3 separate regions of the Homo sapiens genome follow, and all the other regions are linked to region 1. Evidence: fine-mapped expression QTL. A gene starts in region 1. Each other region holds a variant in brackets. All regions are shown on one strand. Distances are from middle to middle.

Evidence for each region.
Region 2: its variant is fine-mapped to the expression of MPDZ in fibroblasts (GTEx, PIP above 0.99). The same link has a PIP of 0.9 or more in atrial appendage, gastroesophageal junction, ovary, subcutaneous fat, sun-exposed skin and tibial artery.
Region 3: its variant is fine-mapped to the expression of MPDZ in pancreas (GTEx, PIP 0.91).

Annotation. Positions count from the first base shown.
Region 1 is chr9:13,277,091-13,282,320 of GRCh38, reverse strand. It overlaps MPDZ (multiple PDZ domain crumbs cell polarity complex component), which reads left to right and starts at 2,629. Exons shown (of 47, transcript NM_001378778.1): 1 at 2,629-2,921. RefSeq lists enhancers at 3,006-3,721, 3,722-4,437, 4,438-5,153.
Region 2 is chr9:13,253,956-13,259,185 of GRCh38, reverse strand. The region is part of intron 1 of MPDZ (multiple PDZ domain crumbs cell polarity complex component); the gene reads left to right. Among named protein-coding and RNA genes, the nearest start is that of MPDZ, 23 kb to the left of the region's middle. The variant C/T (reference allele first, on the strand shown) is at 2,154.
Region 3 is chr9:13,316,100-13,321,329 of GRCh38, reverse strand. No RefSeq gene overlaps it. Among named protein-coding and RNA genes, the nearest start is that of MPDZ, 39 kb to the right of the region's middle. The variant C/T (reference allele first, on the strand shown) is at 3,323.

The sequences.
Region 1 (5,230 bases):
CCAATCTCAGAAGTTTCCAGGACTTTTTCCCTTATAAAAGTCCTCTGAATATGACTCAAATTTGAGAAAAACAAATTATTGTGGAGAATGCCTCACTGAGGATATAGGTGGAATGACCCCAGAGCCTGTATTAACATGAAATAGAAAGCATTATTAATCTATTTACGTATGGGGTTTCAAGCCATCCCATAGAGTAGAGCACCTCTACTCTATCTGCTTTACACTTTGTCTTTCTCTGCAAGATTTTATTTCAACTTTAATGTTTTTAACTTTTATTTTAGGTATTTTTTTTTAAACTAGTGCACTATATCCCCGGTGGATTTCTAGAAAATCTTAGGTTTTCTGGATTAGAACAAGTTAAAGAGAATAGAGCAATAGCTATACGGATTAACTTCAAAAGGAGAAGCTTCAGGGTGGAATTATCCCCAAACTCTGGATAATTTTATGCAAGGACTAATCTAAACCAGATGCCTTTTTATCCTCTGATATACTGCTGTTTAAAGAGGGCATGTGGGCTTTGCTTCGCTAAAGGAGACTAGAACAATAGCACCTTTTAAACCAAGGTAAAATTATTTGTTTTAATCTCATTTATCCACAATAAACCAGGGAATTAAATTTCTAAAACTTTCCTCTAATTCAGTTTTATGGGCTCTTTCCCTATGGTTCAATATAAAAAATGCCATTTAAAATTTTAGGACTCAAAGAATTCCTTCAGTAGCTAGTTATGAAATTCTTTTCCTCCTACACTACCCCAGCAGCTAACATTTCATGCACGTACTTCCTTTGTATTTGAGAATGACCAGATTTGAAAACTGACAAGTAGAAGTGCTATTCAAACAGGAGGATCCCTTTGGAATTTCTAAGCAATAAGAAAATCCTTTCCAAATGGGATGCCTTGAGGTGACTCTATGACAAGAACACAAAAGTTATATGGAGAAATTATTCATTCTTGCAGTCGTATATTCATCCTATTTCATATGAGTGCCAACCAAGTGTGAAGTTTTTACTAGGCTCTGAGGATAAAATGGTGACTTAGCCCCTGTTCTCATGGAGTTTATGGTTGAAGAGGGAAGAGACATTGCATAATTACAAAATCAAATGCATATTTACAAAGTAGGAAAAATATTATGAAGCAAAAGCATAGGGTACCATAAGAATGCATCACAATGGGTTTATCGTAGTTTGTGGGAATCATGTAGCATCTATGGCAGTTCCATTCACTGGGACACTGAACAAGATGACCAGGCTTGAGCAGAAGTATCACGGCTGCATTTTTTTTTGCAATCTAGGTTTGAGACAAGCAAACAGGGAAGCCAAATAAACACTTGAATATATGGATAAATCTGAAGGTATAAATGTAAGATTCTGTAGGTACGAGATCATAAGCTAGAAGTGAAAATGTATTTAGAGGTAAGAGTTAAAAGGAAAAGAGGGCCCGTAACTGATTTTTAAGGAATTCCAGCATCTAAAGATTGGGGGAGAGGAGGCAAAGAAGACTGAAGAGTGGCCTGGGGACAGGGGCAGATCTACCTGGAAATTGATGTAGCTTAACGTTCCGGGTCCTTCTCTTGCCTGGGAGCAACCCTAGCAATGTGTTTACATGGGCATTTATTTTTTGAATTTTTCTAAAGAAAGATTTTTTTTTTTTTTTTGGTTAAAGCAGAGCTCCCAATTGTACAAGCTTCAGAGCCCATACATCCGCCCTTGACTAAGCGGAAGAAGCAAAACCAAGAGTGTGATTGCATGGAATTACAAGAGGGGTGGGGTGGGGAGGACTCTAGGAAGAGAGAGGTCAACAGCTGTGAATGTGTTTGAAAGTCCAAGGAATATGAGAAAAAAGTATTTTTATTCAGAATATTAAAAGAAATTCTTTTAAATGTTCTAAATTGGACTTCTGAGTATCCTTTGGTCCTATAATCTAATATCAGAGGGATATTTTGAAAAAGAGTTTCTTATGCAGAAAAAAATTCGTGGGACTTCCAAATTGAGGATAACAGAAAGAAAATCTTAAGTGGCACAAAATAGAAATGAATATCTGTTCTTCCTGGGGCCATGCAACTCTAATAACTTTTCCATGTTTACTGTTTTTGCTTTTTAATTGGATCATCAGACTAAGAATGCACCCTGATGTGCGAAAAGTTACTTAGAAAGTGAGAGGACTGCCCCCACCCTTCTGATTAAAGCGCTTCTCATAAGCATCCTATGCCATTCAGTAAGCTACCCATGCAGAAAGCATCCACAGGGCAGTGCACATAAGGAAAATCTGAGGAGCTAGAAACAGGCTATCAGTTTCCGCAGGTTGACAAAATCGGCAGATAAAAATACAAGACTGCCATTAAATTTGAATTTCCGATAAACAACGAAGAACTTTTTAGCATAAGTACGTCCCAAATATTGCATGGGATATACTTGTACTAAAATTATTCCTTTTTTTTTTTATTTGAAATTCCCATTTAACAGAGCAGCCTATATTTTATCTGACCACCTCACAAGTCCACTACCCACACCCCAGGTCGAGCGGCCCAGGAGCGAGTTTAAAACCCCGCACAGGCCTGCTCGGCCGCGTCCCCTGATTGGCCAAGGCGCGCCCGCCGCCCCGCCGGTCGCAGGCGTCACGGCAGCCCCAGCAGCCTGGGCCCCGCCACCGCCTCCGCGGCAGCCCCGGTCGGCGCAAGTGCGGCGCGCGCTGGGGGAGGGGGCGCGGCGGAGCGCTAGGCTGGCGTCGGGCCACCGCGGGATTAAGTTTCTCAGTCACGCGTGAGTGTCTGTGCGTTTTGATCCGAAGCTCCTCGCCGGGTCGTTACTTCAGAAGAGAAGACAGTGAGCGTGGGCGAGGCGAGGCATCCAGAGGCCCCGGCGACCCCTGCTCCCCAGTCCTCCGCCCCCTCGCGTCGCGGCCCTGGGCGGGCGCCGCGAGCCGGGTAAGCGGCGCTTGAGCCCCGGCCCAGAGGCCGAGGCGCGCCCCCGCGCCCTGCGCGCGCGCCGGCGGGGAAGGTGCGCGGGCGCCCTGGGCTCGGCGCTTGGGGGTGGGGGTGGGGGCGGGGATGGGGGTGGGGGTGGGGGTGGGGGTAGGGGTGGCGGCGGGCCGTGGGGCGGTGGGGCGGTGCGCTTGCCCCACCCCGCGCGGCCCGGCGCTTCGCGGAAGCCGCTGCTGTGGCTTTTTTAAAAGGATGGGGTCTAGAAGTTTCCTTTGCTACTCGCAAGTCTCCACTCCCCCCAGCCCCGCGGTGGATAATCCTAGACCTTTCAGCACCCCCGCCACCCCTTTCTTTTGCTCTCGCTGACTAAGAGGTTTAAAAGTTTTTCCTTTTCCTTGACCCAGAGGGGCACAGTCTTGGTGTCGGGGGGCTGGGGGTGGGGTGTTAGCCTGGGGGCCCGGAGCGCAGACCAGGCCTCCAGGGCGCGGGAGCCTGTTGCTCTCCCCTGCAGGGGCCGCTCCCGGACGCCCCATCCGCCGTTACGTGGTCCCGGGATGTGCGGGTTGCGGTAGAGAGTGGGCAGCAATGCTCCTGGTCCTGCGTTCTCGCCTTAGCCGCGGGGACCCCGAGGCGAGCCGCTAATTGGTACCGGTGCCCCGTCCCTCACCCCTGGCACCGGCGCCCTTTTAACCGCCGCTCCCGTTGGTGGGAGCACGTTGGTCTTGTCTCTCCCTTAGTCTCCTCACCCCCCGCGCTGATGGGCGTCTTTGTCTGCGATTTGGCAGCCCCAGGATGCCGGATGTTACCAGGGAAGCGATGTTTGGGAGACGCTTTGTGTCTTGCGGAGTTGCGCGTTTGTTGGGTGGTGATGGTGTACATTTTTGTTTGCGTTCTTTGCAGAGGCACAAAGGCTGGGCTATTCTTGCCTGCAGTCACATGGAAATCAAGCGGAGACTGCGGGGGAGGAGAAGTGGCCAGGCGCCGGCGGGAGGTAGAGGCCGCTCCGTAGTCACTGGGGGCGAGTGGGGGCCCCTGGAGACCTCTACTGCGCGGTGCGGCTTTTGAGGTGCTCCGCTTGGGAAGACCCCGGCAATGGGCACTGACTGCCTTTTTGCAGTAGGGGCTGCGGTTGGAGGCTAGTGTTTCCTAGGTATCATCAGATAGATAAGAGGACCATGACTTCACCAGCGTAGAAGGAAAACTTCTCCATGTTCCTTGATGTCATAGAGAAGGAATCTGATAAGTGATCAGACTGCCTCGTCCTGCCTTGTAGACAGTTTGATGTAAACATCCCCTTCGTGTTTCCCTAGAAATTCCTGGTTTAGGTTACCCTTTATAGAATAAATAACACCTTATCTGAAAACTAACGAGGAGGAGGTGATGGTTTCGGGCTTGGGAGTTTTACATGTTGAATTTGGGTATGAGTGATTACAATGAACATCTTGTAATGTTGGAACTATCTAAATTTGTATAATGTATGCCTTAGCACCTGATGGAATTTTGGCAAACAATAGTGTTTTAAAAACCTAGCAAAACTTGGCCAGGCGCAATGGCTCACGCTTGTAATCCCAGCACTTTGGGAGACCGAGGTGGGTGGATCACTTAAGGTCAGGAGTTCAAGACCAGGCTGGCCAACATGGTGAAACCCTGTCTCTACTAAAAATACAAACATTAGCGGAGCGTGATGGCTCGCACCTGTAGTCTCAGATACTAGGGAGGCTGGGGCAGGAGAATCGCTTGAACCCGGGAGGCAGCGGTTGCATTGAGCCGAGATCGCGCCACTGCACTCCGGCCTGGGTGACAGAGCGAGACTCTGACTCAATAAATAAGTAAATAAATAAAAAATAAAAATAAAAGCCTAGCAAAACGTTCCTTGACTTGATCTTCTAATACAATACTAAGCTTTGGATGGAGGCACCTGTACCCTTGTGTGCAATGTAGGCAAAACTAGTTTTGGGTACCCCTTGACTCTCCGTTCTTCTTCCCTATCTCATTTGCCAAAACAAACAAACTAATGAAGATTATTCTCAACATATTACTAATAGATTATGGTGTACCTTATTTCTTACATATGTTCCTTTTTTTTTCCTTTGATCCTTTCTGTGTTTATTCTTTTCACTTACCTTCTCTAGTTCTGGTTTTCTTTGTCCCTTTACCACACTCCTTTTTATTGACTAGGCCTGAAGGTTGTGGCTTGGAAAGGGAGGGATCTTTAGTCAATTTTTAGTGTGCTTCAAAGTCCTATCACCTAGACATTGCTCTGCTTGACCCTTAAAGACATCTTTCCTTTTCAGATGCATTTAAATGTACCT
Region 2 (5,230 bases), 23 kb after region 1:
AGCTCTCTCATTATATTAAAGTTTCACAGGAAGCGTGAAAGCTAAAATGATTTTGTATGTTGTTATTTCTAAGCTAGCATGTACATAGTAGGATTGTTAGATAAAATAACAGATGTCCAAATTAAGTTTGAATTTCAGATAAAATTGGATTGAGCTGTATTGAGCCTCTGCCTCCTGGGTTCAAGCGATTCTCCTGCCTCGGTCTCCCCAGTAGCTGGGACTACAGCATTTCCATTTCAGGTAATTTATCTGGCAGTTTCATAAAGAAAGAACAAGAATATTAATCAGTATTTGAAGTATGTTGTGAAGTTAATGTTCTTTAATACTTGATTTTCTTTCATTTTGGTGGGCAAAATTGAATTAATCTTATTTTCATTGAATAAATTTAGGAAGATTTATAAATGTCTACTTGAAAATAAAAATTGTATTCATGAATGCTTTTTTGATCAAAGCCTATAAAAATGAGGGAGAAGTTCAGAAGAACAGATGCTAAGAAAAGACTGAGTGATTTCTGTTGGATGACTACATGATTTGGTGGGTACTGTGACATTTCTATACTTTTAGAGCTGTAGTTCAGTAATGTTACCCAAAAGTAGGAATTATGACTGAAAGTATAAATATTGCTGTTATGGACAATTGGATTTATGAAAAACTACTTGCAATTGACTACAACTGTGCCTTCGTCTGCTTACTTCAGGTACTGCTGAGGCAACTATGAATGATAGAAATGGTAAATTTAAATGCAAAAACAGATGCTGAGCAACTCTGACAAGCTGCAAGCCATTGAAACAAGCCCTTTTAATGTCGTATTCCTTTTTCAGTCAGAATTGTTTAAGATAAGTAGAAAATTGTATGCATTTGGGCAGTTTCTCTTCATAGAGTTATTTTTAGCCTAAAACATATTTTCACTTGTTAGTTGCCATATAATCTGCATTGAGCAGAATGGTTTGTGTTATGTTTCAAACGCTGATTCTCTACTTCGTAAAAGCTGTGCCTACATGTTACCATTACAACTTGTTGAAATGTAAAATGATTACTCAGTTAATCAGTTCCTATTTCTAAATAATACCAAATATTCTGTTTTATTTTTATCCCCTTCTGACACTAGTGTTACCAACAAGTTGTTGGAGAATCATATGGTCACAGGTAAAATCTTTGAGATTTATTAAGGATTAGGCAGCTGTCTCATTATATTAAAGTTTTACAGGAAGCGTGAAAGCTAAAATGATTTTATATGTTGTTATTTCTAAGCTAGCATGTACATAGTAGGATTGTTAGATAAAATAACAGATGTCCAAGTTAAGTTTGAATTTCAGATAAAATTGGATTTTAGTATAAATATGTCCCAAGTGTGGCATGGGACATACACTAAAAAATTATTCATTTACCTGAAATTCAAATTTAACTAGCATCCTGTATTTTTAGTTGATAAATCTGGCAACCCTCTATTAAGGTATAAAATTTGATAAACACAAAAGTAATGCAGTGCAAAGTAAGATTATCTCAGTGTCCTTCAGCCCTGCCATATCCCACTATCATTGTCTTTGAAAAAGTTGCAGAATAGTCTATGCTTCTATAAACATACACCAATCGATTTTTACTTACCTAAGCAATTACCCTCCTCTTCTTCTGTACAAAGTGTAGCAACTTAATACCTTGTTCTGTATCTTCTTTTTTATAAATTTGACAATATATTTTCACCGTGTGATTTTTGTGAGACAGTTTGGAAAATATGGGTAGTGTGATAGAGTTTGGGCTTTAAAATAAGGGACAGTAGGGTTCAATTCCAAGTTCTCCCATTTACTAGCTGTTTGACCTTGAGTAAGACCTTGACCTGTCCTTTTCTCTGTTGTGTTATCTGGAATAATGTGTCAGGCACGGGAGGCTATTGTGGGGAGCAAGATGGTCAGAGTCCCCACATGCATGATGGAACGTGTATAAACTGCACTTGCCTAGCACTCTGGTGCCTAACAGATATTGAATTCATTGAGCTGTTATTGGTATGTCTTATGGTTCTGAGAGCTAAGCCTATTGGAACAGATTTTAGGTTCAGTTATAACCAAATAGTGATATGGCCACTAGCAGGATACATGAACAGCAGCTAGAGGGAAACTGGTATTTTTTCTGTACCAGATTTGAATACAGTTGTCCCA[C/T]GCCTTGGAACATGGGGGATACATTCCAAGACCCCCAGTAGATGCCTGAAACCAAACATAGGACCTTACCCCATATATACAGGTCTATGTTGTTTTATTGAATTTTGTCTTATTGTGCTTTGCAGATATTGCATGTTTTTTAAATAAATTGATGGTTTATGGCAACTCTGTGTCAAGCAAGTCTATTGGTGCCATTTTTTTCCAACAGCACATGCTTACTTTGTGTCTGTGTGTCACGTTTTGTTAATTCTTATAATATTTCATGCCCTTTATTATTATTATGTCTGTTACAGTGATCTGTGATCAGTAATCTTTGATGTTACCATTTTAATTATTTTGGGGTGCTACAGCCCTGCACATTTAAGATGGTGAACCTAATAAATGTTGCACATGTTCCAACTGCTCCATCAACGGGCCGTTCGCATTCTTTTTCCCTCTTCTGAGGCCTCTCTATTCCCTGACACAGAACAGTATTGAAATTAGGCTATTTAATAACCCTGCAATAGCCTCTAAGTGTTTAAGTGAAAGGAAGAGTTGCATGCCTCTCACTTTAAACCAAAAGCTAGAAATAATTAAGTTTAGTGAAGAAGGCATGTTGAAAGTAGAGATAGGCTGAAAGCTAAGTGTGTTGTGCCAAACAGCCAAGTTGTGAATGCAAAGGAAAAGGTCTTGAAGGATTAAAATAGCTTCTCCAGTGACTGCATGTAAAGCAAAACAGCCTTATTGTTGATATGGAGAAAGTTTTAGTGGTCTGGATAGAAGATCAAATCAGCCACAACATTCCCTTACGCCAAAGCCTAATACAGAGCAAAACCCTAACTCTCTTCAATTCTGTGAAGGCTGAGAGAGGTGACGGAGCTGCAGAAAAAATGTTGGAAGCTAGCAGAGGTTGGTTCATGAGGTTTAATGAAAGAAGCCATCTGTATGACATAAAAGTGCAAGGTGAAGCAGCAAGTGCTCATGTAGAGCCTTCAGAAAGCTATCCAGAAGATCTAGCTAAGATCATTAATGAAGGTGGCTGCACTAAACAACAGATTTTTAATGTAGATAAAACAGCATTATATTGAAAGAAGAGGCTATCAGGGACTTAAGTAGTTAGGAGAAGTCAATGTCTGGCTTCAAAGCTTTAAAGAGGCTCTCTCATTAAGAGCTAATGCAGATGGTGATGTCAAATTGAAGCCAGTGCTTATTTACCATTTCAAAAATTTTTAGGGCCCTTAAGGGTTATTCTAAATCTGCTATGCCTGCGTTCTCTGTAAATGGAAAAAGAAAGACTGGATAACAGCACATCGGTTTATAGCATGGTTTACTGAATGTTTTAAGCCCGCTGTTGAGACCTACTGCTCAGAAAAAGGTTCTTATAAAATATATTACTGCTCATTGACAAGGCATCTGGTTATCCAAGAGCTCTGATAGAGTTTCATCAAGAGAGATGAATGTTGTTTTCATGTCGCTAACACAACATCCATTCTGCAGCCCCTGGACCACAGAGTAATTTTGACTTTCAAGTCTTATTATTGAAAAAGTACATTTTGTAAAGTTATAGCTTCTGTACTTAATGATTCCTCTGCTACATTAGGGCAAAGTAAATGGAAAACCTTTTGGAAAGGATTCACTACTTTAAATGCCATTAAGATATTTGTAATTCATGGGAGGAAGGCAAAATATCAACATTACCAGGACTTTGGAAGAAGTTGATTCTGAAACTCTTATGAATAACACTGAGGGTTCAAGACTTCAGTGGAAGAAGTCACTGAAGATGCGTTACAAATAGCAAGAGAACTAGAATTTCAAATGGAGTCTGAAGATGTGACTGAATTGCTGCACTTTCATGATAAAGTTTGAATGAATGAGGAGTTGCTTTTTATGGATGAGTAAAGAAAGTGGTTTCTTGAGATGAAATGTATGCCTGGTGAAGATGTGAACATCGTTGAAATGAAAACAAAGGGTTGAGGCTATTACATAACCTTAGTTGATAAAGTAGGAGCAGGATTTGAGAGGTTCTATTGTGGGTAAAATGCTGTCAAACAGCATCACATGCTTCAGAGAAATCTTTCATGAAAGGAAGAATCAATCAATGTGGCAAAGCTCATTGTTGTCTTATTTTCAGAAATTGTTACAGTGACCACAGCCTTCAGCAACCACCACCCGTCAGTCAGCAGCCATCAACACAAAGGCAAGACCCTCCACCAGCTCAAAGACTGTGACTCACCAAAGGCTCAGATGATCACTAGCATTTTTTGACAGTAAACTTTTTTAATAAAGGTGTATAGATTGTTTTCCTAGACATAATGCTACTGCACATTTAATAGACTACAGTGTAGTGTAAACATGACTTTTGTACGCACTGAGAAATGAAAAAATTCATGTGACCCCTTTTGTTGAGAGATTCACTTTATTGCAGTGGTCTGGAACTGATCCTGCAATATCTCAGATATGCTTGTACCATGTTTTTTTTCCATTTTTTATTTTTATAAATACATACCTATGATAAAGTTTAATTTACAAATTAAGCTCAATAAGAGATTAACAACAACTAATAATAAAATTGAACAATTACAACAATATACTGTGTATTCTTAATTCTCTTTGTGTTGAGGGATTTAGTACCTTGAAATGTAAAAGCAATGTTTTTGAATGTACTTTGAATAACTATTTAAAGAGGCTTCTTAAGGGTTTTTATTAAAATCTTGGATTTTAAAAGTGATTTGTTTAAAGATGTATGGACATTAACATTACATAAATGGCGAATATTCCTGATCTTTCTTTGATAGACCGACCGGTGGTTTCTAATATACATAATTCTGACTTCTTCATACCTTGTCTGAACAGTTGGCTAATTTGACTATCTACAACAGTCTATTCCATTTCAGACTTTATTCATTTTGGGTCTCTATTTCTTCCTTTGGTTTCACTTTATGTAGAGCATGGTCTATTTGAACTTGGAAACAGGGAAGTTAAATCTTGCTTTCTAGAGGCAGCATATTGTAGAAATTAAATTGTGGACTCTGGAGCTAGATGGCTTGTGTTAAGAACCTGGCTCCATCACTTACTAGCGATGTGGCCTTAGACAAGTT
Region 3 (5,230 bases), 39 kb before region 1:
CTCACAAAGTGTTGGGATCACAGGCGTGAGCCACTGCCTGAACTCTTCTACTTTTTTGTAGGAAGAATAACTTCTAGATTGATGGTAGGTAGTAAGGGATTTTCCAATTCCCAGAAATGTAAGTGTAGTGATAATTTCTGTGGTAGGTTAAAAGAGGCCACAAATTTTTTGCTAATCTTTTCATTAAGAAGCAATGAGTCTAATTCCCCTCCCCTTGAATCTGGCTGGCCTTAATGACTTCCTTGGCCAATACAATATAACAAAAGAGATATTCTGGATCTTCTGTGCCTAAGGTCAGAGCCTTGAATTTTCAGCCCAGATCTCTTGGAACATTTCCTCTAGAAGCCCTGGCCAGTCATATACCTCCAACTACCCTGAGATCATCATCCTAGAGATGCCATGTATAGAGGCTATGGTCAGCAGTCCTAGCTGAACTCAGCCTTCCAGCTATCCTCTGACAAGCAACAGACATGCAAGCAAAGCCACCTTGGACCCTCCAGACTGGTCTACTCATTAGCTCAGTTCCTCAGAGTGACTTATGTTCATGCCACATGAAACAGAATAATCACCTAGACCAATACAAATTTCTGACCTACAAAATCATGAGATATTAAAAAGTGGCCATTGTTTAAGCCATTTAAAATTTGAATGGTTTGTTATGCAGCAATCGATAATTGGGACTTTCTTCCCTGTCCGCAACTACTTGGTGGTTTTATTATTTAAGCATTTCAATCTCAATTTTATGTCAGTAACACTGATATAGTAGATATTAAGAGAATTCTGCTTTCTACAGAATGAATTGGAATGGAGAGATATTTGTTCATCAGGTGACATAGTAATAAAGAATGTCAGTTGGCCATTTTATTAAGTGAATTTACAGATTCAGTTCAACTGGTAAAATATCTCCTGGCAGAAGAAATAGATTCTTCATAGAAGGAAGGCACTACCCTTGCTCAGCTTTATTTATAAAGAATAAAGTACTAAAACGTTTTTCCAGATTTGGGGCACAGAGGCAAAGGAGCAGAGGGAGTCAGGAAGTTCAAAGCACATGAGGAAATTTATGGGTTTATCAGATAACAAAATTCCTGATTTCTTCAAGTCCTTTGTTTTTTGTTTTGGGTTCTTTTTTCCCCCTAAGAAAGCAATGTATTTCTTTCTCCTCCTATCATCACTATTTCATACTTGAATATGTGAGATAAAATCTTGCTTCCTAAGCTGAAGATAAGAAGAAAAGTGAAGAGGTGTGCTGGAACATGAGCTATCATCTCTATCAGAATTTGAAAGATGAGTTCATTAGACTCCTTACTGAAGGAATACAGCTTATTGCTAAGATCATAGTCCTTCTGAGTAGTGATGCCCAAACCAAACTATGCATCAAAATCACATGGGAAGTTTTTCAAAATATTTCTGCAAATTCTGTTGTGGGATCTGAGAATATGTGTATATGTATTGGACAAGATTCTTTTAGTGTAAAAACAAAAATCAAAACAAAATAAACCAAAAAAACCCCAGAAAAATCAACTCAAATTGACTTTAGCAAAAAAGAGAATTTATTAATTCACAGAATTGAAGAGTCTATTCTTTTAGATGTTTCTATTGGGATATTGGTATGGTTTGGCTGTGTCCCCACCCAAATCTCATCTTGAATTGTAGCTCCCATAATCCCATGTTGTGGGAGGGACCCAGTGGGAGGTAACTGAATCAAGGGGGCGGGTTTTACCCATGCTGTTCTCCTGATAGTGAATAAGTCTCATGAGATCTGACGGTTTTATAAAGGGCAGTTCCCCTACACATGCCCTCTTGCCTGCCACCATGTAAGAGGTGCCTTGCTCTTCCTTTGCCTCCTGTCATGATTGTGAGGCTTCCCCAACCATATGGAACTGTGAGCCCATTAAACTTCTTTCCTTTATAAATTACCCAGTCTCGAATATGTCTTTATTAGCAGCATGAGAATGAACTAATACAGATATACTTTCTATTTCTAAATAAAATGAGTAGTTTCAATTCTTAATATTTCAGTTACAGGACTTATCTATTTACCTCCCACTAGAGGAGATGAGGGTTTAGTTTTTCACCAATTCTTATTCCATGCATCCCATTCTAAACTGCTCCCCTTCCACATTTCCTCACCCATACTTTTCAATATAGTTCAATATTCAGGGTTATATTTTTACAGCTATGTAAATGTCATTTAAATATGAACCATAAAATTACTCATTTTAACTCAAACGTAAACGCTCTCTTAGAAATGTTAATTTTCTCCAGTTTGTTCAAATATATTAAGTCTTCAATGAATTTCATTTTTTTCGTCTGTACTGTTTGCCCTCGAAGGCAGTTATTATCTTGTGATATTCCTTTTTCTGTCTTTTCTAATCAATCTCTTGCTTCCTGGCTTGCATGCATTGTGCTTTCTTGATTTACTCCCTTATTTTGGTAAATAAAAGATAATATTTTGAGACTCTGCACACCTGAAAAATATTGTTACATACCCTTAGTTGTGATAGGTAGCTAATTGAGTTTAAAGTTATAAATTGGAAATCTTATTCCCTTGGAATTTGAAAACAATCTCCTTTGTCTTCTAACTCCCAGTATTTCTATTACTAAGTCCAGTGAAATTGTGATTCTTGATCTTTTAAATGAAACTGTGTTTTCTCTTTAGTAGCATATAGGCTCTTATCTTTTATCCCAAATGTTTGAAATTTCATAATTATGTGGCTTGGTTTAGATCATTTTTACCCATTTTGCTATCAGGGTGACTTTGTAATCTGAAAACTCATGACCTTTATTACTGGGAAATTTCCTAACATTATTTACACAGTAATTTATCTTTCTTGATTTTCTTCATCCTCTATCTTTGCATCTCTGATTATTGAAAATTTGGACTTCCCAGACTGATCCTCTTATTTTCTTTTCTCCATTATTTTTCCTCTTGTGCTTTGTTTCCTGAAATATTTCAACTTAATATTTAACTAAACGACAACTGCTACCAGCTGTCATATATGGAAAAAGGTCATATCTTGGATATTTTAGCCTTGGCTGAGCTCTCAGTTGAATACAGCCACCTCACTGACTCTGGCTGATGCCGCAGGAGCAGAAGAATCGCCATGCTGAGCCCAGCTAACCTTTAAAAATATGAAAAACAACACATCAATACATATTGTATTGACTCACTAAGCTCTAGGGTAATAGATTAACTGATGTAGGGGGTATGATATATCCTCACTTCAGGACCTTAGGCTTAGCCATGTGACATGCTTTAACCAATGAAATGTTAACAGAAGTGATACCTGTCACGTTTGAGCAAACGCTTTAAGAATCAGTA[C/T]ATGGTATAACATGTGCTCTTCCTACATGCAAAAAGCCAGCAACGTTCCATATAGAGGCTATTGCCAAGAAGCCTTAGTCTCAAACTGAAACTGACTGAGCCAGAACATTGCATTTTTCACAGCAGCATAACCTTTCCTGCCTGATACAGACACTAAATAGCCAATAGGAAACTTATGCACATGGACAAGTGTGGGATTCACATGTGGGGTGATCTGGCAGGTGCTATCCAGCTCCCCCTTCAGAACTGAAGAACTTATTTCACCAGCTTCTAGGAGTATTGCCACTGACAGTCCTTAGCTGTTTGGCAGCTCTGGAAATTGCTCTCAACTAAAGAAAACTTCCTCACCAAAGTCACACTCTTTTCTTGGGGGCAACCTGCATCCAGTGACTGGTCAGCATGAAGGTATAAAAGCCCACCATGCTTGTCATATTGCAGGACAACTTTGAAAAACCATTATTATTTCAGAACTCCCCATGGGATCAGCTTGAGGTGTGACCGCAGTCCAGTTTACCTTTCCTCAATCCTACTTCCTTTCCTTTCCTTCCTTCCGTGAGTGTGGTTCCCATGAGTGCTCTCTAATTAACTTCCTGCAAGCTAATCTCTGTTTCAGAGTTTATTTCCTGAGGAACCTCACCTGCAATCACTTTTTCTTCTTTTTTTGTTGGTTTTGGTTTTGGTTTGGGGGAACATCTAATAGCAATCTCTTTAGGAATTTTACCTTGGATTGACTGGATTCTTCCATAAATAATTTTCTAATATTATGCTTAAGAAAACAGGTCAGAGAATAGATCAGGTTTAAGATAAAAATAGGTCTTACAATGCTTAAGAGGATAGGTCATGCTCTGGGAACTGAATTAAGGAGAAGACTGTTGGATATTAACAACTAATTATCCAGTCTACATTTTAATGTTGCTGTTTTCAGTACAGTATCCTGGCCCTCAACTGTGCCCAATATTCTCCGGGCCAAAGACGTTTGGTATCACAAAGAATAACCTCCCAGTGTTCTGCCATGTTAGGAAAGAGTTCACAATCTAGCTTTGTGGAATGGGTTACGGAGTCTTGGAGCCTGCTTCTGCTTAAATATACTTGCATTCAGGCTGGGCGCAGTGGCTAATGCCTGTAATCCCAGCCCTTTGGGAGGCTGAGGCATGGTGGCATGAGCCTGTAATCCCAGCTACTTGGGAGGCTGAGGCAGGAGAATCGCTTGAACCCAGGCAGAGGTTGCAGTGAGCCAAGATGGTGCCACTGCACTCCAGCCTGGGTGACAGAGCAAGACTCTGTCAAAAATAATACACACACACACACACACACACACACACACACACACTTGCAGTCAATTCTACTCCTTTTGTACTACTCCTACTCCCATTTCTAGAAGTTCCTGGTGTTACCAATTTCCAAGCCTGCAACACAAATCAAGTGGTTTTGCAGCTTTCCATCTCTAATTTTCAGAATGTTGTTATTGTAGTCTCCTCTCCCAATATTTTTACCCTTATTTATGCCTTTTGAAAATATGACCATATTCATTTACTCTCATTTTAGCAAGGAGTGAAGTAAGGAGTAAAGGGAGATGTGCATGCTTTATTGAACTATCTTTAATTAGAAGCACTAAATAGTTATCCTTCTATATATGCATTATAGTTAGTGACTCAAATTCTCCTTTAAATATTTCTATGGAAATCTTTAAATCTTTATTAGAAATACATCTAAATTTTTTTTTTTTTTTTTTTTTTTTTTAGACAGAGTCTTGCTCTGTTGCCCAGGCTGAAGTGCAATGGCGTGATCTTGGCTCACTGCAAACTCTGCCTCCTGGGTTCAAGCGATTCTCCTGCCTCAGCCTCCTGAGTAGCTGGGATTACAGGCATGCGCCATCACGCCTGGCTAATTTTTGTATTTTTAGTAGAG